Homo sapiens: one gene and its partners. The protein of the gene in region 1 interacts with the protein of each later gene in a biochemical or structural test. Each region holds a gene or a part of one and is shown on either strand. Other genes may lie near its edges. The genes, in order: ROCK1, CDC25A, SMAD5 and MYBPH.

Region 1 (7,036 bases):
TAGACCCCACTGATGCACAAGTTAAATTAGAAATACAGTATTTCTTTGCCTAGGAGATTTGTATATTTACTGAAAATATTACAGTTTAAAAAAATTCTCAGTAAAAGAAATTCAAATAGTGTAGAAAATTATGAAGAAAGGATATCTCCATGTAACTCTTCTGAATAATTATGTTATAGTCATTTTGCATATACAAGGGTCTTTGTGGCATTTATGTTTGTCTTTTTTTAAAACTAGACTTGCAACTTCTGTAATTTGATTATTTTACTTAAATCTTTTATTAACATTTTTGCCACTTTTTAAGTGAAACAATTTTGTTTAACATTAATGAATGTGTTTTGTTTGTTTTTTCTATTTGTATAGCTTTTTTATGCATTCCAAGATGATCGTTATCTCTACATGGTGATGGAATACATGCCTGGTGGAGATCTTGTAAACTTAATGAGCAACTATGATGTGCCTGAAAAATGGGCACGATTCTATACTGCAGAAGTAGTTCTTGCATTGGATGCAATCCATTCCATGGGTTTTATTCACAGGTAAAGATAAAAGTGCTTTAAATTTTCTCATTTGTTGAGGGAAATAGCTAAAAATAACTTTAACATTTCTTACTCTCAGTTCACCCATTCTTCTTCCGTATGACATAAGTGACCTTTCAGAACTCAAGACTCTGGCCAGGCGCTGCCTCACGCCTGTAATCCCAGAGCTTTGGGAGGCCGAGGCAGGCAGATCTCTTGAGCTCAGGAGTTTGACACCAGCCTGGACAACATGGTGAAACCCATCTCTACAAAAAAAAAAAAAAAAAACACAGGTGTGGTGGCATGCACCTGTGGTCCCAGCTCCTTGGGAGGCTAAGGTGGGAGGATCGCTTGAGCCTGGGAGCAGAGGTTTCAGTGAGCTGAGATCTAGTCACTGCACTTCAGACTGGGTGACAGAGTGAGATTCTATGTCAGGAAGGGGGGAAAAAAAGAACTCCAAACTTTGAAGTTTATAATTTTAGCATTTCAATTTAATGTTGATATAAATGTATTCTTTAATATCCCTTAATCTGATCATATAGCCTTTAAATGGTGTTCTGAAAAGTAAAACTTGTAAACTAGTTTTCTAAGGTATGTGCCAGGAGTTAAACACTTTGATGTTAATTTTTTAAATATGTAACTTAATTTGCTTTTAATTAGTGAATAGGTCGTATTTATTCATTAGACGAATAGTTTCATTTGTTGTACAAACACTGCTTGAATCCTGTGTGCAGTTGCTGTGCCTACATGTCAGGGATCAAAAATGAAAGTGACTTAGACCCTGCCGTGGGGTTTTTTTATGTACTTACCTATCTAATATGTTTCAATCACCTTTTATGTCTGAGTGTTGTATTTTTGATGGTCTGTCTCTCTCAAATGATTTGATTTTCCCTCTGAAAGAATGAAACTTTTAAAAAAGGAATATATATGTTTTCTTCTGAGGCATTAACATATAAAGAAGTTTCTTTGATGAAATTTAATTTATAGATGTGGATAGAGAACACATACAGATCAAAGATGGCCTTACCTAGATTGAGGATGCTTGACCTAAAATAACTGCCTCATATAATTTTTACAGTGTCTAATCTGTTTCAGAAAATACTGTACTATTTTTTCCCTCCTGCAGAGATGTGAAGCCTGATAACATGCTGCTGGATAAATCTGGACATTTGAAGTTAGCAGATTTTGGTACTTGTATGAAGATGAATAAGGTTAATTAACTAGATTTTAATTTAGTTTTTGCTAATTCAAGGTAGATGCTTCTTTAGAAAATGGTTTAAGAATTCTTTAGAAAATGGTGTAAGAATTTACTAACCATAGCTGGACTTGTCCAGAATTAATATGACCTTATTTGTTGAACTAGATACCATGGTTTCAATGTTGTATTAGTAACTTGTTAGTGATTTATTTTTTCCTCTCTATTTAGGGTAAATATGGATTGCCAGATTTACTAAATCCTTCATAACAACTCTAATATACACTACTGGTAACTAGGAATGGAATTAGCTTAAATGTCACTAAATACTTATGCCAGTGTTAAAATTAGACTTTCATAAAAATTGGATTCCAGTAATGTGTGTATTTTTTAGTGTTTTACTTCAGTTAACATATAAAAGATTTTACTGCTTATTTTAGGAGTGAGTCTTAAAAGATACCTATCCTCACTGTTTATATAATAAATAACATATACACAGCTGTATATGTATATACATATTATGTATATGTATATACATATACATTATGTATATGTATATACATATAATAAATAACATAAATAAATATGTTATTTATATAATAAATAACATATACACAGCTGAAGGAGCTGAAGGAGCTGTGTATATGTTATTCCTTCACTTCATATACACAGTGAAGGAAACACTGCATGAGAACTTCTGTATGAACATTTAGTTATAATGCTGTTTCATTAATACCAGCGAATATAGGTAACAGCTAACAAGTCTCTCAGGTTTGTTGGGGGAGGGCAGTTAAAATTCACATCAAATAGACATTCAGTGTGCTTTACACTATTATGCCCTTTTCCCATACATATGCTTCCCCAGTTTGTATTTGTACAGTCAGCTTTTGTATGTTTCTTTTGTAGTTTCAAACATAGTTAAATAGCTATTTTAGTAGAAAATAATGAAGTCAGTGTTTATACCAATATGTTGTAAAATGCCCTATCCTATGAACTCCCCAGTGTATTTGCACTGGCCTGTGTACTTGTTCTCAGCAGTTAAATGGTTTCATGATATTGGCACAACTTGGGGAATAATAAATGTGGCAGTATGTTTTTCTAGTGAGCATTATTACAAAATAATCACTGGTGTGTGTATATATGTGAATACACATATAATGTGTGTGTATATGCATTCACATGTATACACATACATACATTATATGGTATATATGTATATGGTGTGTATATAGTATGTATATATATGATTAAGCTGTGTTAATTTTTGTCAGGTTTCCATTCAGTTTTAATATATGATATTTTATAGCTCAAAGATTTGGAGTCCCATAGGTAATATTAATAAGAAAGTCATTTTAAATAATTGAGACTTTATATCCTAATTCAAAATTTGACCTGCCGCGCTTTTTAGGAAGGCATGGTACGATGTGATACAGCGGTTGGAACACCTGATTATATTTCCCCTGAAGTATTAAAATCCCAAGGTGGTGATGGTTATTATGGAAGAGAATGTGACTGGTGGTCGGTTGGGGTATTTTTATACGAAATGCTTGTAGGTGAGTAAGGAAGATTTTATGTCTCTCTATTACAGTTGTTCATCTCAAAACTTGCCACTTGGCTCTTTCTAATATATTTATTATATTAAGCAATCTTGATTTTATTTGTGGGTAATAAACATGATCCAAACCTGCTTCGTATGTGTTTTTAAAAGCATTTAGAGGCTTAGAGCAACTTTGTGATGTGTTCTTTTATATATTAGGTGTATGTTTTTAGTTTAATACATACCTAATAATCTTTTTAAACGGGTAACTTTGACTCTTCCTTTGAAACTGACTTTTTAAAAATGTATTTCATTTTGCTTTTGTTTTCTTTATCAATTTTTCAGGTGATACACCTTTTTATGCAGATTCTTTGGTTGGAACTTACAGTAAAATTATGAACCATAAAAATTCACTTACCTTTCCTGATGATAATGACATATCAAAAGAAGCAAAAAACCTTATTTGTGCCTTCCTTACTGACAGGTAAATAATTTTAAAACTGAGCCTGTATTAATTCTGAGGACTTCTCATCTTCTGCTCCATTTTTAAGGTCCATATCTGAGCTTCTACATGTAAATTGTTAGAATATAAATGACAGTGAAACCTGATGTAATTTTATGATATTCTAGATGTCTTTTGTAGATCTCAACTCACTTATCATACCTAAGAAATTGTGATAATAATACAGTCTTGGCTGATGGCTAAACTAGATGACTTTTTTCTTTTATTGTTCAATTTTTAACTTGGTTAATTATAAAAATTACTGTGTATTTTACTGAATCTAAAAAAATTTTTTAACATAACATCTCTGAAATTAGAGTACATCTCACAGTCAATGGTATGAGTTGGGAGCATCCTTTTTCATAGTGGTATAAAAACGGTGATACACCTTATACTTTAAACCATTTTAGATTTGATGATGTATGGTATATGGTTGTTGAAAGAGTCAATAGTATAAAGCCATTTTTAAAAGTATACTATCTTTTTTCTTCTAGACATAATAGTTGGTGTTCCATCTTGTAGATCCAACAAGCATTTTAATAATAATGTCTGTCTGCATTTTTGAAAGAAAAATGGCATATTATATATACCTTTGTGGTTTACTTTTGAAATTTGAAAGTGAACCAGATGTATTAGTAAGATTATATTTAATGTTTATGATTGTATATTGTTAAATATTAGGGAGACCTAGTACTTTTAAATATGTTTCAAGTTGAGATTTGCTTTAACTTGTCTCCCTTCATTATGTCCTTTAGAGCTTGAAGTATGGTTTTTCAAATGTTTACTTTTTTTTTTTTTTTTTTTTTTTAAATAGAGACAGGGTTTTGCTCTGTTGCCCAGGCTGGTTTCAAACTCCTGGGATCAAGTGATCCTCCCACTTCAGCTTCCCAAAGTGCTGGGATTACAGGCCTGAGCCACCCATGCCTGGCTAATTTTTACATTGATTGATTGATTGATTGAGACAGAGTCTCACTCTGTTGCCCAGGCTGGAGTGCAGTGGCATGATCTCGGCTCACTGCAACCTCCACCTCCCGGATTCAAGTGATTCTCCTGCCTCAGCCTCCCAAGTAGCTGTGACTACAGGTTCCTGTCACCATGCCTGGCTAATTTTTGTATTTTTGATAGAGAGGGTTTCACTATGTTGGCCAGGCTGGTCTTGAACTCCTGACCTCATGATCTGCCTGCGTTGGCCTCCCAAAGTGCTGGGATTACAGGTGTGAGCCACCGCACCTGGCCAATTTTTACATTTTAATATAAAGCATTGTATTATGCTGTTTATTAGGTGCTAGGGATATAGTAGTGAGGAAGATACAGAGCCACTTTTCTCAAATACCTCATAGTCCTTTGGGGGAATTAGATAAGCAAATCAGACATTTATAGTACACACAGCTAATTACCATGAGATAAGTACCATGTGCCGGAGAACCATGGAGAGGTTTTCTAATCCAGTTTGAGAGTTAGTGAAAGCTTCTTGGAAAAATTGTCACATGTCTAAGCCAACTTATCTTTTAGCTTATGCAAAAACTTAGAATTTAGAGTATTTTCTTTATTTATAAGCACTGTACTAGGGAAAAAAGGTGCTAACTTTCTTTTTCCAATTCAGCTAAAATCACATTTTTAAAAACTTTTTGCTCACCAAAAAAGAGGCTGGTATCAGTAACTTGTCCAGTGAAAGCTCTGAATTCTGTGGCAGTATCAAGAATTAGTAGTCATTGGCTTTTGAATGGTCAGAAATAATTAATAGATTATAAATTGGAAGTTCAAAATTTTAAATGTGTTTCTGGAGGTTTTTGGTAGCATCTGGTATTGCTGCCTAAGTAAAGTTTTGGTTGGGGAAAAAAAAGCCTAACTTTACCATTGTAAGAAAAAAATAACACACACACACAAAAAACTGTCAAGAAAATGCATGGTGCTTTATTCATTTTGCTAATGAAGTAAGGTGGTGATTAATCTGGATTTTTGTTGTCAGTAGAAAAGTCATGGGTGTTTTTTGTAGTTATTCTTTAGTTTTCTTTTTTTTGAGACGGAGTCTCGCTGTGTTTCATCCAGGCTGGAGTGCGGTGGCGCAATCTCAGCTCACTGTAGCCTCTGCCTCCCGGGTTCAAGCGATTCTCCTGTCTCAGCCTCCCAAGTAGCTGGGACTACAGGCGTGTTCCAGTACACCCGCTAGTTTTATATTTTTAGTAGAGATGGGGTTTCACAGTGTTGGCTGGGCTGGTCTCGAACTCCTGACCTCAGGTGATCCACCCCACCTGAGCCTCCCAAAGTGCTGGGATTATAGGCATGAGCCACCATGTCCAGCCTTTCTTTAGTTTTCTTTTAAAAAAATTCTTTAATGTTCTCAATCTTTAACATATTTTCTATTTGGGCTGATACTATGCTGACAATATAATTTCACCTTAGAACTATATTTGTCGTCCTACACTGATTTAATATCCTGCCCACAAATAAACCTGGACAGGTTATAATAAGATCTTAAATGATTGATTACTTTTCTCCTTCTGTCATTATTCAGGGAAGTGAGGTTAGGGCGAAATGGTGTAGAAGAAATCAAACGACATCTCTTCTTCAAAAATGACCAGTGGGCTTGGGAAACGCTCCGAGACAGTAAGTTTTTTTTTTTCTTTCATATTTTAGTGAATATTTGAAAGTAGTTGTGGTAGTTTGTTGAAACTACATTGCTAAATATTTGTGTGTATCTGATGAAAATCAGAAGCCACAAATACTATATGGGAATTGTCCTAACCTATTAATTTGATAATATTGGGCAGATTATATTGTTACTCCTCTTATGTCCCACGCAGGATACCCAGATGAAATATAAATGTAATGGATTTAGGCTCACCAGTCATAATTTTACATTTGATCTTTGTTGAATTGTTCATTTTAGGCGTTAGTTATCTTATTATGGAGGTGGTCAATAAGTAGTAAGTAATGAGATTAAAATATATGTTTTTGTGAGAAGACAAGTTATTCTCTTGTTTTTATTAAAACCCAAAATATAAGAAGGTTCTATTATTAATTCCAGAATTCAATTTAATTTTATTTATGAGTTTATAGGATATTGTGATATACTTGATTCCATCAGGCTTTTGCAGCTGGCAATTCAGAAACAAAAATGTATTGTATAAGAAACTAATTTTCAGTCAGTTTAGAACACTTTCTTACTTTTTAAAAAAAGTTAAAATTACAAGATGATTCACAGAAAACTCTACAACATAGCTGAATCAAAATTATCATGACACCAAAGGTTCTCATCATCTTCGTGGATTTGGGAGGTAAAG
Region 2 (7,036 bases), on another chromosome or scaffold:
ACTCCAGCCTGGGTGATAGAGTGAGATTTCATCTCAAAAAAAAAAAAAAAAGAATATTCATTTTCTTTTTCTTTCTTTTTGAGACACGCTGGAGTGCAGTGGCAGGATCTTGGCTCACGGCAACCTCCGCCTCCCCAGTTCAAGCAAGTCTCTGCCTCAGCCTCCTGAGTAGCTGGGATTACAGGTGCCCACTGCCACGCCTGGCTAATTTTTTTTGTATTTTTAGTAGAGGCGGAGTTTCACCAAGTTGGCCAGGCTGGTCTTGAACTCCTGACCTCAGGTGATATATCCGCCTTGGCCTCCCAAAGTGCTGGGGTTACAGGTGTGAGCCACTGTGCCCGGCCAGAATATTCATTTTCTTTTACCGTAATAGAGATTGACCTTTTTATTTCCATATTTGTAAAACTTTTTTTGGATAAAATAATACTGTTAATAATTATTTTGTATATATATTGGCCCTCATGTTTTGGTTTATTTTCATATATTTTAATTTTTAGTATTTTAAATTCCATTGTGGAGAAAATGTCAAGCATTGCTAGAGTACAGTTATCATACCTGTGATATTGTGAAATATATATTTAGTCTTCTTCCCCTTCTGTCATATAACTCCTAAAATCTTTGGAATATCCAAGGTCATATCTTTTTGTATACTAATGATTGATAGCTTCAGGGTGGGACTGGTCACTGGAAAGACAGAGACATGATTAGAGGTTGGAACTTTCAGCCCCACCCTCCAATATCTACGGAAAGGAGAGGGGCTAAAGGTCAAGTTGATCACTCATGGCCAATGGTTTAATCAATCATTTCTATGTAATGAAGCCTCCCTAAAACCTTGAAAGGACAGGGTTCAGAGAGCTTCTGGATAGCTGAACACATGGAGGTTCCTGGAGGTTGGGGCACCCAAGGAGAGCATGGCAGCTCCATGTCCCTTCTCCCATACCTCACCCTATGCATGTCTTCTTCTATATCCTTTGAATATCCTTCATAATAAACTGGTAAATGTGTTTTCTTGAGTTCTGTGAGCCACTTCTAGCAAATTAAACCCAAAGAAGGGGTCATGGGAACCCCTACTTAAAGCTGGTGGTCGTAGATCAGAAGATCCAGAGGCCCAACTGGTGTCTGAAGGGTGGTGTGGTTTTGAGGACTGGGCCCTCAACTTCCTGATCTGACGCTCTGCAGGTAGATAGTGTCAGAATTGAATTGGACGGCACCCAGCTATTTTCCACTGCAGAACTGCTTGCTTGCTTGCTTGCTTGCTGGTAGGGAGAAATCCCCTCATATCTGGGGGTAACAGCACTTCTGTCTTCTGTTGCTGTTGAGTGAGGGAATAAGAAAAATCACTTTGAGTTTGTGGGGTGTTTTCCTCACACAAACATATCATACAGGGCTAAATTTCTGGGTGTTTTTTTGTTTGTTTTTTTTTTTGAGACCAAGTCTCGCTCTGTCGCCCAGACTGGAGTGCCATGGGTCGATCTCTGCTCACTGCAACCTCCGCCTCTCAGGTTCCAGCAATTCTCCCGCCTCAGCCTCCCAAGTAGCTGGGACTACAGGCGCCCACCACCACGCCTGGCTAATTTTTTATATTTTTAGTAGAGACGGGGTTTCACCATGTTGGCAAGGCTGGTCTCGAACCCCTGACATCAAGTGATCCACTCACCTCGGCCTCCCAAAGTGCTGGGATTACAGGCATGAGCCACCACGCCCGGCAGAGCTAAATTTCTTACTATCAAATGTCAAATATCCAGTCTGGGTTCAGTTTTCCCCAGTTGTCTCCTAAGTACTTTTACAGTTTATTTGTTAAAATCTGGATCCAAATAAAGTCTATACACTGTAGTTGGTCAATAGGTCTCTTACTCTTCAGATTTCAGTGCTCCATCTGTTTCCCTCTTGCATATTTTTATTTGTTGAAGAGCTCAAGTCATTTGTCCTGCAAAGGTTCCCACAGTCCTGTGGGGTCTTCAGACATTGTCTTCTATCCCCTATATTGCCTTAACCTAACTCTGGAAAGGATGGATTGAATTCCAGTTCTATTTGTTTGGCAAGAATATCACATAGGTGATTTTGTCTACTTTGATCAGGAAGTATAATGTGCCAGGCAGCCATTGGTGATTGCTGCCCAGATTTTTTACTTCATTTCACCAGGGTTTCAGAAAGATGATACTGCAGTTTTTACATTCTTTCCTCATTAATTAGCTAGAATATATCTATAAAGAGAAACTTACACTCATCAAACACTGTGGTTACCCTTGGGAAAGGCAGGATGAATATTGGATCTCTTTATTTGCCAGTTTCCAAATAATGCCCTACCAAGCATCTTCCAAAGTTGAAAGCAAGACTTATAGTTGTTTTTCAATAATAATCAGGAATTCATGGGTTAAAACATTTAATGTGTTTCTGTGTATTACAAGTATTATCCTTTTACTCAAATTATCCCCTTTTTAACAGCTGGCTTCCTCTTCTCATTGAATAAAGCTAAGACGTAGGCCGGGCGCGGTGGCTCACACCTGTAATCCCAGCACTTTGGGAGGCCAAGGCAGGCAGATCACCTGAGGCCAGGAGTTCAAGACCATCTGGCCAACATGGTGAAACCCCGTCTCTACTAAAAATACAAAAATTAGCTGGGCGTGGTGGCGCACACCTATAGTCTCAGCTGCTCTGGAGGCTGCGGCAGAATCGCTTGAACCTGGGAGGCAGAGGTTACAGTGAGCCAAGATCACTGTACTCCAGCCTGCACTCCACTCCTGTACTCCACTGCACTCCAGCCTGAGCGACAGAGCGAGACTCTGTCTTTTTAAAAAAAAAAAAAAAAAAAAGTTAAGACATACTTTTTCTAAACTTAATCCTAGTTTTAACCCCCCTTGTTTCTTTCTCTTTTTCTGGAGATAGTTTCAGTCTGTCACCCAGGCTGGAGTGCAGTGGCACCATCACCACTTGCTGTAGCCTCGACCTCCCCAGGCTCAGGTGATCCTCCCACTTCAGCCTCCCAAGTAGCTGGGACTACAGGCACACACCACCATGCCCAGCTTGTGTGTGTGTGTGTGTGTGTGTGTGTGTGTGTGTGTGTGTGTGTGTGGACAGGGTCTTGCTCTTTGATCTGGTCTGGAACTCCTGGGCTCAAGCGATTCACCTGCCTTGCCCAGGCTGGTCTGGAACTCCTGGGCTCAAGTGAGTAACCCACCTTGGCCTCCCAAAGTGCTGGGATTACAGGCATGAGCCAAACCACCTGCACCCCCTTTTTTTTTTTTTTTTTTTAAGGAAGGAAGGAAAACTTAGTTTCAGAGCAATTCGGTTAGACACTGGAATAATAGGAGACCTAGTCAATAACCCACATCTGTTTTTGTTCACTCCAGATTCAATAAAATAAAATAAAAACTTCTTACTAAATGTAGGCATTAACATTTTAGTCTCCTCGAGACATGCTCCAAGTGAATGTTTTCGGAAGTTCCATTCAGAACCCTTGTCTCATTCTCTACCTTTGATTTGTTACAGACTCTTCATCAGTCTTTATCCCTGGCATCTTCCCCCAAAGGAACCATTGAGAACATTTTGGACAATGACCCAAGGGACCTTATAGGAGACTTCTCCAAGGTAATTGCAAGCAGAGCTGCTCTGGCAAGTGTAGGAGGGAGTGTGGGTATTTAGAATCCCACTCAGCCTGTCTCCCTCCCCAGGGTGGTTCCTGGCATACCTCCAAAAGGACACAGTTAAAAGAATGTTAAAGGTAGGGAAGCAAACTTAGTTTCTCATGATCAGGTATATGTTGGTTTCTGAGACTGTAGATATCACTATAGCTGATGGGCAGTTTTAGGTAGGGAGCTGTCCACCAACCACCTTGATTGTAACCCAAAGACTAGGCTCTCTGGGAACTGTGTTATTATAAAAATAGTAATTAGCAGGATAGTGTACAGCAGAAATAAATCTGTAGCCACACTACAAGTCTGCATGTTGAAAGGTTATCTTAGAAGGTCTGGGATTGAGACTGAATTTCTCCGTTCAGAGAAGCTTGGCCATTGAGGGAAAAGACCCTCCAGGAAGTCTAGAGGAAGATCTTCTAATAGCCTGATATACTACATGAAGGCTTGGCTGCAGTAAAATACAAGGCTAGGACAGGGAATGTGTCAATAGCAGCTTCTTTAATCACATTTTGACTTGAAGGTTACCAGATCAATGTTTTATTCATTAATTTAGTTAACATTTATTGAAGCACTTATGTGTTAGGCAGAGATTCCAAAATGAGATACAGTTCCTTCCCTCAAAGAATTTAGCATGTGGTTGGAGAGGTGAGACGTGAACTACATGTACCACATGGTAGACTGAAATAAATTTTAGTGAGGTGTAAACATAAACAGCATGCCGTGAGAAGTAAAAGGGTTTATCTTGGCTAGGGGGTTGGGGAACGTCTGGGGTTGGGCCGTTGATATTTCAGCCCAAATGGGTTTTGAAGGAACGGAGAATGAAGAGAACAAGCAAAGATCCAGCTGTATCCTCAGTTTTGGAACCTTCTCTTGTTTGGCAGGGAGAGATGTGGTCTTACTATGTTGCTCAGGCTGTAGTGCAGTGGCTATTCGCACATGCTATCATAGTACACTGTAGCCTCAAACTTATGGCCTCAAGTGCTCCCCCTGCCTCAGCCTCCCAAGTAGCTGGGACTACAGGCATGCACCACCACACTCAGTGGAATTTTCAACTTGAATTGAGGCCTGGTTATATTTGTCTTAATGGGCCTATGCATGGGGATAGATGAACTCTTGGCTCAGCCAGTCACCCTAATGAGTAATTGCTAATGTGTGCATCTTCCTCCTCAAGGCTGGGCTAGGTCTCTTTTTTTCCTATCCCCAGTGCCTGGCACCATGCTGGACATAGCAGGTGCTCAGTAAATGAGTGAAATCTGTATGTTTAAGTGCTATTCGCAGTCTAACTACTGACGTGTGGATTCTTGACAAAAGCAGGAGGAAAATGAGATTACCTGAGGTTTCTTTATTTAAATCTGCCTTACTAGCTAGGTAACCTTGGATAAGGTGCTCAAAATGGGGATAATATACCTCATTGGTTTGTGTGAAAATTAAATGTCAGGATGTTAATGAAGTAACTAGAAGAGTAACTAGTGTGTACTAACTAATGTTTGTTTGCTTGTTTGTTTGTTTGTTTTTTGAGAGGGAGTCTTGCTCTGTCACCCAGGCTGGAGTGCAGTGGTGCAATCTCAGCTCACTGCAACCTCCGCCTCCTGGATTCAAGCGATTTTCCCACTCCAGCCTTCCGAGTAGCTGGGACTATAGGTGCATGCTAACGCCCGGCTAATTTTTGTATTTTTAAAAGAGTTGGGGTTTCACCATGTTGGCCAGGCTTGTCTCGAACTCCTGACCTCAGGTGATCCACTAGCCTCGGCCTCCCAAAGTGCTGGGATTACAGGTGTGAGCCACCGTGCCTGGCCATTAATGTTTGTTTTTTAAAAGATGCCTCCTACCAGCCAGACAAAACAGTATAAGTGTGAATAATATATAGGCTTTCAGATTCTCTAAGTATCTTTTTTTCTTTTTAAGGGTTATCTCTTTCATACAGTTGCTGGGAAACATCAGGATTTAAAATACATCTCTCCAGAAATTGTAAGTCCATCCTTTTGAAACCCACCACACATCGGGTACTTGAATCTAGTTTTCCCTGACGGTCAAAGTTGATTCTCCCTAATTTTCTCTCAACAGATGGCATCTGTTTTGAATGGCAAGTTTGCCAACCTCATTAAAGAGTTTGTTATCATCGACTGTCGATACCCATATGAATACGAGGGAGGCCACATCAAGGTATGGATTCCTGAGACTTGCTGTAGAAGGAGCCCTAAACAGGATCTGTGGTTTTAAAGTGGGGAGGACAGTGACACCTGGCCACTTAGCTCATATGCTAGTTGTTAGAATTTTGAAACAATACAGTGAGTGTGGAAGGCATTTGATTCCGGGTGCTCTTAACGAATGTTCCCTTGTCTGCAATACTCTCTACCACCTTGTGCACAGTTATTCTTCATGTTTGTCCCTCACACCATCATTATCAAGGACACTTGTAGGAGGTACCCACTGATGTTTAAGTCATTCGGGGGACAAGAATGGGTTTCATAGCATTTAAGAGGCTTGGGTACCAATGTCTGAGCACCCCAGGGCTCCTGATGAGGAGAAGACCATCTCTGGCAACATGTCCTGGTGTCTGTGCCAGGCCTAGTGATGCCTCCAAAGTTGATTGTTCAGCAAGCTGCCTGGTGGAGGGGCGTGTTGGGACACACGTTCCCAAGAAGAAAGGAACTGATTTTGCCATTTTAATCTTTTTTTTTTTTTTTTTTTGAGACAGAGTCCGCTCTGTCGCCAGGCTGGAGTGCAGTGGCATGATCTCGGATCACCACAACCTCTGCCTCCTGGGTTCAAGCAATTCTCCTGCCTCAGCCTTCCAAGTAGCTGGGACTACAGGTGCACGCTGCCACGCCCGGCTAATTTTTTTTTTTTTTTAGTAGAGACGGGGTTTCACCATGTTGCCCGGGCTGGTCTCAAACTCCTGAGCTCAGGCAAACCGCCCGCCTCAGCCTCCCAAAGTGCTAGGATTACAGGCATGAGCCACGGCGCCTGGCCTGCCATTTTAATGTTTTACCCGATTAATAGTGTTTAAATATAGTAAGGAGGTACTTTAAATACGATGTTACTGTTTGCCATTGTCTTGTGGCTTTTGAAAATCCCCAAATTTATAAAACTACCTATAAAGTGTACCATTGTCATATTTGAATTGCCCATTTCCAGTCCCCATGTGCATTACTGTATGATGAACGTGTACGGACCCACAAAGCTCCATTGAGATACAGGTGCCAAATGGTCTACTGGGCTATTCAGCTAGAAGAACTGCAAAAATCACAAACTGGTCTTGTGGACTTAAAGATCACTCTTGATGAATCATTACATCTTGCTGAATCATTACTTCATGTGTGAAACGTGCAGGTTCCAAGGGTCTCTGTTGTCTTCACAGGGTGCAGTGAACTTGCACATGGAAGAAGAGGTTGAAGACT
Region 3 (5,425 bases), on another chromosome or scaffold:
CTTATAAGAGGGCATATACAGTGAAGAGTAAGTTTTCCCTCCTACTCTCGATCTTCCAGAAGCTGTACTTTTACCAGTTTCTTTGTCCCACCAACTTAAAAAAAAAAAGTACAATTCATTGTTTTGCAAAAGTGTATGGTAGGGGCTTAAAAGAAACTATAAAGTTTTATTTGAATGAACACTATGCACTGCTGTAACTGGTAGTGTTCAGTAAAAGCAAAATGATAGTTTTCTAGATGACATAAAATTTACATTTAATACAGATAAGTGTTCTTCAGTGTAATGTGACTTCATGCTATATATCTTTTGTAAGACATTTCCTTTTTTAAAAAAATTTTTGCAAATAACTGATCTCAAGTATATGTCATTTACTCAAAATCTGTCATAAGCATTACTTTATAGCTAGTGACAGTGCATGCACAGCCTTGTTCAACTATGTTTGCTGCTTTTGGACAATGTTGCAAGAACTCTATTTTTGACATGCATTAATCTTTTATTTTGCACTTTTATGGGTGACAGTTTTTAGCATAACCTTTGATAAAATACACTCAAGTGACTTGGACTTAGATGCTTATCCTTACGTCCTTGGTACCTTTTTTGTATTAACAAACACTGCAATTTATAGATTACATTTGTAGGAAGTTATGCTTTTTTCTGGTTTTTGTTTTACTTTCAACCTAGGTTATAAGACTGTTATTCTATAGCTCCAACTTAAGGTGCCTTTTTAATTCCCTACAGTTTTATGGGTGTTATCAGTGCTGGAGAATCATGTAGTTAATCCCATTGCTCTTACAAGTGTCAGCTTACTTGTATCAGCCTCCCTACGCAAGGACCTATGCACTGGAGCCGTAGGAGGCTCTTCAGTTGGGCCCCAAGGATAAGGCTACTGATTTGATACTAAATGAATCAGCAGTGGATGTAGGGATAGCTGATTTTAAAACACTCGGCTGGGCACAGTGGCTCACACCTGTAATCCCAGCACTTTGGGAGGCTGAGGCAGGCAGATCATGATGTCAGGAGTTTGAGACCAGCCTGGCCAATATGGTGAAACCCTGTCTCTACAAAAAATACAAAAATTAGCTGGGCATGGTGGTGCGTGCCTGAAGTCCCAGCTACTCGGGAAGCTGAGGCAGAAGAATCACTTGAACCTGGGAGGCGGAGGTTGTGGTGAGCCGAGATCGCACCACTGCACTCCAGCCTGGGCGACAGAGCGAGACTCTGCCTCAAAAAACAAAACAAAACAAAACACTCACCCATCAACGAATATAGACTCTTCTCTCATTTATCGATGATCCTCTTTTTCCATTTTTTAAGTACTTATGTGGAAGCTAGTCTCCCAAAACACAATCTTTAGAGAGAAAAGACATGAACGAACTCCAAAATATCCATTTAATCAATCATGTTTTTGGCTTTGGATAAAGAACTTTGAACCAGTTTTTTTCTCAGGAGCTGTCAAATGGACACTTAATTATGACATGAGAATGAAGAAATTATTTTGGAAAAAAAAAATGACCTAATTTACCTATCAGTGAAAGCTTTATTTTCTGGTGCCTTTTGAAAGTATATGGAGTCATATCATTCTTCTGTTTAAAATGTTAGTTTGGTTTGACTTTCCACTTTGTCCTTTCTGCTCTTGTGAAGAAAAAAAAAAGCATTTTCGAGGAAAGAATTATGCAATTTCTTTTGTTTTCTGTGTCATTATTTATTGCTTTTTCAATGTGCAGCCAGTGGATGGTTTTAGTTCTTTCAGATGAACTGCCATTTGTGTTTCAGCTCACAGTTCTTTGCTGGGTAAAAGAAATACTTTCTGACAGTCACCTGAGCCTTAAATGTAAGTATTACATGACATGCATTCTGTTTCTTCCAGAGTTCTGTCTGCCACACGAAAGAGAATATTTGCTTACTTGATAGAACTTTGGCATTTTCATCATTCTTTTACTTAACCAGGCTTATGGCATGATCTCTGGAACAAATTTGTAGGAAAAAATTACTCCAATTGAATGACTGATGTATGTAATCAACTTCATTGGGCTGCAGTAAACTAGTGGAAATTAGAGAGTTGTTTTATTGGTGTTTTCTACTGTGAGTTAATTAAAAATTGTTTTTATTTGGGGTCATTATGTCACAGTCTTGAGTTAACAAGATCTTACGTGATTGGCCTTTTCTTTGTTTTCTCTTAGGAGTTGTGTCTCATGAATGACAGTACTAAAGCTATTAACAACTAAGAGTTTGACAGAGAACTATAAGCCTGTTGTATCTCCTAAAAGTTGTCAACTCCCCACCCTTGGACTTTAAATGAAAATTTTATTCAGTCCAGCTATTCTTACAGTCCCTAAGGATTTTCATATATCTATGTATAGGAGATAAAATTTGCTAGTAAGATTTTTAAAAACTGGCTAGTGAAAGGAAAGTACCTCTGAAAGAAACCATTTTAGCAAATTATGGTTATATGTTTTAATTTAATCTACAGAATGTTTTATAGTAAAATTCTAGCACCACTAGAATAATCACATAGCATGTACAATATATTTATGCTGGCTGAAAAGACAGAATCTGGGAATAATAAAATTGCAACCAGTTTGGTAATGCAAACAGCAGAATAGAATGAAATCTCAGTAATGAATTAAAGCAACAAAAAGATATTGATTGGCAAAAAGCAAGATATAAGAGATTCATTTGCTTAACATTTCTACATAATATTTATGGTCTGGTCAGTATTGGTCTGGTCAGTATTGCCTGGCTGACGTGAAATGTAAACTAGTAGGCGTGTTATTGATCTGCTAAAACTAACCCTCTTTTTAAGAGGAGATTTAAGGAAGACGTCAATCAAAATGTCAAATATGTGTGTCAGAATATAAATAATTTTTCACATTGTATTGTTGCTATATAAAAAAAATAATAGAATTGGTTGGGTTTCTGAGGTGAAATCCAGAGTAAGAGTACTAGACAGTTCAACAAGCCACATCTAATGGCACAGATAGAGGATGTAGCTATTTTATACCTTTCATAACATTTGAGAGTAAGATATCCTTCAGGATGTGAAGTGATTATTAAGTACTCATACCTGAAATCTGTTGTCAAGATTAGAACTGGGGTTCATGTTAAAAACCTTCCATATTACCTGAGGGTACCTGTGGGGAACAGTTCCTTCCCCTGTGTGGTAGTATTTTGTTGGAAGAGAATGTTTATACAAAAAATGAAATTCTTCCAACAGCAGAGAAACTCTAAAAAGTTTGATAGTACCTATCAAAGTGCTGTACTTCTGTGATAGAGAACATCTGATGTACCAATTTAGATCTATTTCTTTATACTTTTTCTAATCAATTGCTTAATAGTACTTTGGATGATTATCACCTTTGCCACTTAAAATATATAAATATCCTTTTTACTTCATGAGGAAGGAAGAATTTTTTGATAATTACTGAGTTCAGCCTTTTGTGATGACTTATATTTTGGACTTACATTTTAACTTTAAAGAATGTCAGATCCCTTCTTTGTCTTACTAGTTAAATCCTCACCTAATCTCTTGGGTATGAATATAAATGTGTGTCATCGTTATATTGTTCAGCTAGATGAGCAAGTATCTTAGGGTAGTAGGTAGCCTGGTGGTTTTAGAAGTGTTTGGTGATTTTTATGGAGAGAGTTTTCCTAAGTGGTGGTTTATAGGTGGTATCAGATATTATTAGGGCAGCTTTTTGGGGAGTAATCTCAGGTCTCCCAGAGCAGCAGCATTTTTCTCATTGATATAAGTAAGATTCTTAGGAGCTTTTCTTATCACACAAGATGCCTGAATCGAATGTGAGAATTGAAGGCATTTCTTCTGCATAAACAAAGAATTCTACCTGCTGGACAGAAACCTGGAAAGTTCTTTGGAATTCGCTGAATTACAGTTTAGTATGTCCTGATTACAGAGTGACAATATTTATCAAGCCTTTGTTATATTGGATTATCTTCTCTCTTAAAATACAACTGTATTATAATTGAAATGACAGCCCAAAATTGGATGGTTTACCAAAACCAATGAAAGGGATTTCACACATCAATTTTTATTTCTGTTTTGAAGAGCACATGCTATATAATAATTGCTAGTAGCAACTGCAGTAAAACAGGTGATAAGTTATTTTCTCTGAAAAGATCCAGTCCTAGAGCAGGATTCTTCGATCATTCATGGCAGAGTGAAAAAGGTTTGTATGGTTCTTGTCCAAATAACTCAGTTCTTAAAATTCTTAAAATGATCGTAAACCATTATCCTTTAAAGGTTTATTTGAAGATGCTGTTAAAGTACAGAATTTTGTGTACAGGTAGATTTTTCCGTCCCTCATTAATAGTGCCTTCTTAATTAATACAGACTGGTGTTAGCTATAACAAAACTCCAGTAAGGCCAAAGAATCCCAAGTTCTTTGTGGAAAAAAAAAAAAAATCTTTTAGGGTCAGATTTTCCCTTCTAATATCATTGAAGATGATGTTGCATTGATTTATTCATAAAGTATTTTAACTATAGGAACTCTAGAAGATAATGGTTAGGCAAGTGATTTTTTTTTTAAATATGGTTGGCGTAAGTTGTATTTTGAAATTCACTTATTTTAAAATCGAAGAGGATTGTAATCATGGAAATAGAATGTTTGTATCTACCTGCCCACATTTTCTTAAAAAGATATTTCATATACAGATAATGAAGACCAAGCTAGTGGCTGCACTGTAGGTCTGCTGCTTATTTGTATTTGTTGTGCTTCTGTTTATGTTGTAGAAGCTGAAATTCTAGCAACATGCTTCAATTCTGTTATTTTGATACTTATGAAAATGTATTAGGTTTTACTATATTGTGCTTTTGAAAGCCATAACTCTTAAGAACTTTGTTTTTGCATATTGTTTGCTAATTCTTTACTTTAATAAACCTCAAAACCTGCTTAATGTGTCTTTTTTTGTTTTGGCTCTGGAGTTGGCCTGCCTGCGTTTGAGTCATGGGCCTCATAGCTTAGACAAGTTGCTTAACCACTCTATGCCTCACTTTCCTGACCTGTAAAGGAAAAGTCTACTTCATAGGAAGGATTTGAGGGAAGATTAATTGAAGTGTAATACAAATACAGTATTTAGAACAGTACTTAGAACATAAGAACTCAAATATTAAAATTGTTACTATCTTTTACATTTCCACTAGTTCTTTGATTCAGAATAATTACTTCTTATGTTGCTTGACCTCGGTGTATCAACCTTTGATGATCCACTTTGTGAATTTACAATTTTTTATTTCCTTTTGTCTTCTTTTTTGAAAAAATTTTAAATCACAGACTGACTTTGCATCATTGTCACTGTGTTGCACACTTTTACCAACCTCTGAATTACATATACAAGACATGCAAACTCATTCTAATTAGAAAGGAATGGTGAGCGAGGCACAGTGGCTCAGGCCTGTAATCCCAGCTTT
Region 4 (5,552 bases), on another chromosome or scaffold:
GCATGCCACCAACCAACTGCTGCCACCTGTTTGCTGCTGAGGAGCCTCAGTCATGGACCCAGCACCCACCCCAGGGGACAGGGATGGTGGCCACTGCAGCTTCCCTTAGAATGCCCAGGGGCTTCAGTGGTTGCCCCTGACCAGATGAGGGTCAGAATGTCATTCCTTAGCATAGCAGGCAGCTGAAATAGGACTTCAAGAAGGACTTCCCGGCTCTGAGACTAACAGATTTTGGGAGGGTGACAGAGGAAGAAGGGGGGATACCCGCCCTGGCTTCACTTGGGAAGAGAAAGATCCTAAACCTTTCAATAGGGCCTGGAGACAGAGGAATGGACAAACAGGGTTTCACAAAGGCTTCTCTGAAAGTCCTGGGCTTGTGGAGAGCTGGGGATATTAGAGCAGGAAGACGGCAGTGGCCTCCCCTTCCTAGAAGTGCAGCCTGACAGGTGCAGCACCTGCTCCCCAGCAGGGGGAGACAGAGAGTCAGCTGGGGCCCATCTGGTGCTTGGGAATGCCTGGGCTGCAGGACAAATCCCATCCTGGCAGAGTCGAGGCGCCAAGGGAGTGCCCAGGATGCTTACCAGTTCACACCATGGAGGCGCTGACCTCCTGAAACCTCCTGCTCCCTTAAGGGATTTGGGCCCCTAGACCTCAGGAGTGAGAGCTTCACCCTTCCTGCAAGGAGGGACCCCATGGCAGCCAGGCACACCCAGGACCCTCCTCCCAGCCAGCATCCCTCACCAGCTGTCCCCTGCCCCATCTCAGAAACCCCAATCAGCCACCCCACTGCACTGCTAAGCCCAGACTCTTGCTTTGATCCAGAGGCCCCCAAGATCCGTGTCCCCCGCCACCTCCGTCAGACCTACATCCGCCAGGTGGGAGAGACGGTCAACCTGCAAATCCCCTTCCAGGTGGGTATTACCCCCACCAAGGGTAACAGCCTGGGTGGGAACCAGGGCCCCCATTTAAGGGGAGCCTGGGAGATGGCAGGGTCTCCAAGGGTCCAGCTGAGACCCAGCGAGACGGCTTCATCCTTCCGCAATCATGCACATGACTCATTGGTGATTCTCAGCCTGTGGATGGGCAGGTGGGCCCCCAGAGCGGGATGGACACCTGGAAGATGTGGCTGTGGGCAGCACCTGTGGCTCCAGCCTCTGCTGCCCCTCCTGAGAAGGGCCAGTGGGACAGGCTTCCCCGAGAACAGCTCCAGAGACTCCTGGAGTTAAGGAGGTGTGGGGACTCTGGCACCTCCCTACACTCACCCTGGGGGCTCCTCCCTGCCAGGGGAAGCCTAAGCCTCAGGCCACATGGACCCACAACGGCCATGCCCTGGACAGCCAGCGGGTGAGCATGCGCACCGGGGACCAGGACTCCATCCTCTTCATTCGCTCGGCCCAGCGCTCCGACTCTGGCCGCTACGAGCTCACTGTGCGCGTGGAAGACCTGGAGGCCAAGGCAGTCATTGACATCCTGGTGATTGGTATGGAGCCAGGGGAACAGTGCTGTCTCATGGGGGACCTGGAGCCCCCAACCTCCTATCCCAGAGCTGATGGCTGATGGGAGCAGGCCAAGGGAGTGTGGCAAGAGCCAAATTTTGGGTGTGGGGGCTCTGTGGCCAGCCTGGCCCTCACACTCACTTCCTCTCACACTCTGGGCCTACAGAGAAACCTGGACCCCCCAGCAGCATCAGGCTCCTGGACGTCTGGGGCTGCAATGCTGCTCTTCAGTGGACGCCACCCCAGGACACAGGCAACACAGAGCTCCTGGGCTACATGGTGCAGAAGGCAGACAAAAAGACAGGGGTGAGGCTGGCTGAGGCAAAGTGGGGTCGGGGTACGAAGTGGTCAAGGTGGTGGGGAAGGCCCATCCCACTGAGTCTAGGGACCGAGTCTAGGGATCGAGTTCTGGTCTGCCCACTGCTAACCTGACTCCCTAGGAGGCCCTTAGCAAGACTCTTCCTCTCTGGACCTCAGATGCCTCCTGAAGACTGTGAAGAGGGCTGGCCCGGGCTGTCTGAAGCCTTTCAAGTTCTGGAGCCATGCTTCTCAAATCTTAATGTCCACATGAGTCACCTGGGGAGCTTGCTAAGAGGCAGAGTCTGACTCAGTAGGTCCAGGGTGGGGGCTGAGGGCCTGCATTTCTAAGACGTTTCCAGGTGATGCTGAAGTTGCACATCCATGGGCCACACTTTGCACACAAAGGCTCTAGGATTCTCTGAGGACCCTACAGAGGTCACCTGAGTGACCCAGGGGCCCCTTCTTCCAATTCAATGTCCCTGAGGCCCAAAGCTGGATGGTTCAGCATCCTAAGGTTGGGGGCATGGAATGAGTTCCTGTGAGGAAAGGTCTCCAGGGTAAGCAGGGAGGGTGAGGACAGGGGTGAGAAATGAGGGTGACACCCGGGGCCCTGCAGCAATGGTTCACAGTGCTGGAGCGCTACCACCCAACCACCTGCACCATCTCTGACCTCATCATCGGCAACTCGTACTCCTTCCGGGTCTTCTCAGAAAACCTGTGTGGACTCAGCACCTCGGCCACCGTCACCAAGGAGCTCGCCCACATCCAGAAGGCAGGTGGGTTTGGGCCCGGAGCTGGCTGTGCTAACTCTCTCCCTGTCTCTGCTTCTTCCTCCGCGTCTCTGCACCCCTCTCTCTGGGTTTCTCCTGGGCGTCTGCCCCTGGAACACTTGCCGTCTCCTCACTCCACGGCTATGCATACACACACATGGAGTGGCTGCAAAGTAGTGAATGTGGTTGGCTGATTTTAACAAACACATCAGAGCAAATCCACACAAATGAAAGATGCCCCTTTGGAGGCTGTGTGCTTATTCCAAAGAGGTGTGTGGCTGCCAGCATCACAGCAGCCGCCGAGTCTCAGGCAGTGAGTGTCCGAAGGGAACCTAAAGGGTGACCTGCGCATGGCTGGGTAGTGTGCTAAAACAAGCCTCCCAACCCTAATACATACCACATAGATGGACAAGAGAGATAGGAGTATTTACTGTCTCCACACAGGCACCTGACCTTCTTGCGTCAAATGTTAAACCCCGGGCCCTTTTCCCTGTCCCTTGTGTGCCCCAAGGCCCTCTCCGACCCACAGTCTGTGTGGGTTCCAGAAGGCAAACTTTTTTTAACACTAGCCTGAACTGCACAGAATTAGGAAGAAACTTTTGTTTAAAAAAAGAAAGCCAGTCAAGTCTCCAACGACAAACCCAAAGGAAACGTGGCACCTCTGAGTTGCTAGCATCCATCTTCTGCCAAGATGCTCTTATCTCTGGTTTTTCCACCTTCTCATCTCTACTCATCACCCTGACCCACCCAGCTACAGTCTCAGCTTTCTCTGCCTCTTTGAGATTGTCCAAGTTCCTGCAAATAAGCCACGACTTGCTATCCATAGATCTTGAATCATAGTCAGTCCTGACAGGTCTCCCTCACTCCTGTAAGCTCAGATGCACCCGACTTTCTCCCCTGAACCCAGATATTGCTGCCAAACCTAAAGGGTTTATTGAGCGAGACTTCTCAGAAGCCCCCTCATTCACCCAGCCCCTGGCTGACCACACCTCCACCCCTGGCTACAGCACCCAGTTGTTCTGCAGTGTCCGAGCTTCACCCAAGGTGAGGGGCCAGGCCCTGTTGTGCCCTGGGCTGGTGGGGGCAGGTGGGGACAGCAGGGCTGAGGAATCCTCCGGGCGTCCACACCTAAGCCTGGGGATAGCTGTTGAGAGCCCCGCCCCAGTCCATACCTCCCCAGCTCTCTTCTGACCATGTCTCCCAGCCCAAGATCATCTGGATGAAAAACAAGATGGAGATCCAGGGCAACCCCAAATACCGCGCCCTCTCTGAGCAAGGCGTCTGCACCCTAGAGATCCGGAAACCCAGCCCCTTTGATTCTGGGGTCTACACCTGCAAGGCCATAAATGTGCTGGGGGAGGCATCTGTGGACTGCCGGCTGGAGGTCAAAGGTGAGAGTTTGAGGACGGGAGAACAGGAGTAAGCACCTCTCTGGAACTGGACTAGAGGCAGCAGACAGCTTAAAATCAAGGCCGAAGAGAAGGGGTGGTAAGACTGGGGTCAGGCTGTGCTGATTACTTTCCAAGCGGCAGGGTGGACAGGTGTAGAAGAGGGTGTATAACCGTGAACTTTCCAGTTCCCCGCCACTTCCCCCAAGCTCTAACTGCAGCATCTCTTCCAGCCTCAGCCGCACACTGAAGTCACGGGAGGAGGCTGTGATGAGGAGCCAGGTAAATGGCCTGACCCACCCACTCTGTTACCTCTGTGGGCAGCACAGAAGCAGAGAGGAGGCCAGGAGCAGGGGGTTGGGGTGAGAAGGGAAGGTGGTGGTCAGCTCTGTGGACACAAACTTGTGGACACAGGCAACTAGCACGCATGTCCAGAGACTCACAGTGATGTTGCAGGGCCAGGCGATGCCGGTGTCTCCTGGAAGGGGGGTGATTCCGTGGACCGCCACACAACCAGAGTCTACTCCCAGCTCTGAGTGATCTTCAGCAAGGGTGTTCTCTTTGGACACATTCTCTCATCCGAAAACTGGGGATAACAACCTTTCCCTGCCTTCCTTCCCCTGGTGGTTCTGAGGCTCTGCATAAGTACGGAAGTATCTAGAACTGCAGTGGGCAGAGCTCAGACCTGGGCATTGCACCTGAGGGAGGGAGGCCTGGTGAGGAAGAGGATGCTGCTCCCCCTCCCCACTCTGCACCTCTCTGGCCTGCAGCCGAGCTCTGCTCACACCAGGGGCTCAGGAAGCATGTCCTCCTCCAGGTGCTGCAGGCCTGAGGGGCCAGGTCCACCAGGCCTACAGTCAAACTCCAGAGATGCCCAAGACCCCCGCTTCCATAGCGACGGCTGATGGAACCGCCCCTGGTACCTGCTGGCCTCCCTTCCCCAGAGGCTGGTGTCCAGAACTCAGGAATGGGCCTGGTAGGCCCCAGGCCAGACTAACTGGGCTCAAGGGGTGCTGGAAGGCGCAGAGATTGGAGTGCCCTGCGGAGTTGCACTCTGGGTGGGAAGCACTCAAATAAAGATGCGTGGTGTTAACAGTGCGGGGCCTCTGTGCCAGTGAGCGACATCATCTGGGGGAGGCGCTGTGTCACGAGGAGGGGGGGTGTCTGAATGTTTCACCATGAGGGGGTCTCCAGATATGTCACCAAGAGGAAGATGCCAATGGGAGAGGTCTCAGGATGTCATGGCTGGGGCAGGGAGGTGGGGGGATGGGGGGTGTTCTGGACCTGTGAGTTTTCAGGATCTCCCTTTCTGATCAGGGTTTGCTACCGCCAGTGCGTAACTATGGAAACAGACACACCCTCTCTGGAACCCTCCTTGCTCCAACGCCTCCACGTGCCCCCTCTCGCAGCTCCTCCCAGCCCCCGTCATTGCTTCCTGTCTGCTGAAGCTGTCTTATTGCCCTCAACAGTGGTGGGGATGGGCGCCCAGCAATGTGCTCTCCACAGGGTTCACAGTTTTTTATTAGTCACATGGGCCTCCCTTGGGAGCCAGGGCACACCCAATTTCCAACAGAGGGAAGGGCTTGGAAGCAAGTCCT

Evidence for each region.
Region 2: of the proteins of ROCK1 (region 1) and CDC25A, one has a biochemical effect on the other in vitro, tested with the Homo sapiens proteins (one study listed by BioGRID).
Region 3: of the proteins of ROCK1 (region 1) and SMAD5, one has a biochemical effect on the other in vitro, tested with the Homo sapiens proteins (one study listed by BioGRID).
Region 4: the proteins of ROCK1 (region 1) and MYBPH form a complex in vitro, tested with the Homo sapiens proteins (one study listed by IntAct).

The regions. Positions count from the first base shown.
Region 1 is NC_000018.10:21,038,795-21,045,830, reverse strand, and holds part of ROCK1 (rho-associated protein kinase 1), read left to right. Parts: intron 1-363; coding exon 364-539; intron 540-1,644; coding exon 1,645-1,729; intron 1,730-3,121; coding exon 3,122-3,266; intron 3,267-3,595; coding exon 3,596-3,734; intron 3,735-6,267; coding exon 6,268-6,359; intron 6,360-7,036. UniProt on the Homo sapiens protein: Protein kinase which is a key regulator of the actin cytoskeleton and cell polarity.
Region 2 is NC_000003.12:48,164,398-48,171,433, reverse strand, and holds part of CDC25A (M-phase inducer phosphatase 1), read left to right. Parts: intron 1-3,489; coding exon 3,490-3,588; intron 3,589-5,540; coding exon 5,541-5,603; intron 5,604-5,699; coding exon 5,700-5,798; intron 5,799-6,996; coding exon 6,997-7,036. UniProt on the Homo sapiens protein: Tyrosine protein phosphatase which functions as a dosage-dependent inducer of mitotic progression. Directly dephosphorylates CDK1 and stimulates its kinase activity. Also dephosphorylates CDK2 in complex with cyclin-E, in vitro.
Region 3 is NC_000005.10:136,177,828-136,183,252, forward strand, and holds the end of SMAD5 (mothers against decapentaplegic homolog 5), read left to right. Parts: 3' UTR 1-4,906; downstream 4,907-5,425. UniProt on the Homo sapiens protein: Transcriptional regulator that plays a role in various cellular processes including embryonic development, cell differentiation, angiogenesis and tissue homeostasis.
Region 4 is NC_000001.11:203,167,311-203,172,862, reverse strand, and holds the end of MYBPH (myosin-binding protein H), read left to right. Parts: intron 1-822; coding exon 823-911; intron 912-1,284; coding exon 1,285-1,480; intron 1,481-1,662; coding exon 1,663-1,802; intron 1,803-2,412; coding exon 2,413-2,572; intron 2,573-3,473; coding exon 3,474-3,610; intron 3,611-3,770; coding exon 3,771-3,957; intron 3,958-4,187; coding exon 4,188-4,204; 3' UTR 4,205-4,236; intron 4,237-4,771; 3' UTR 4,772-5,052; downstream 5,053-5,552. UniProt on the Homo sapiens protein: Binds to myosin; probably involved in interaction with thick myofilaments in the A-band.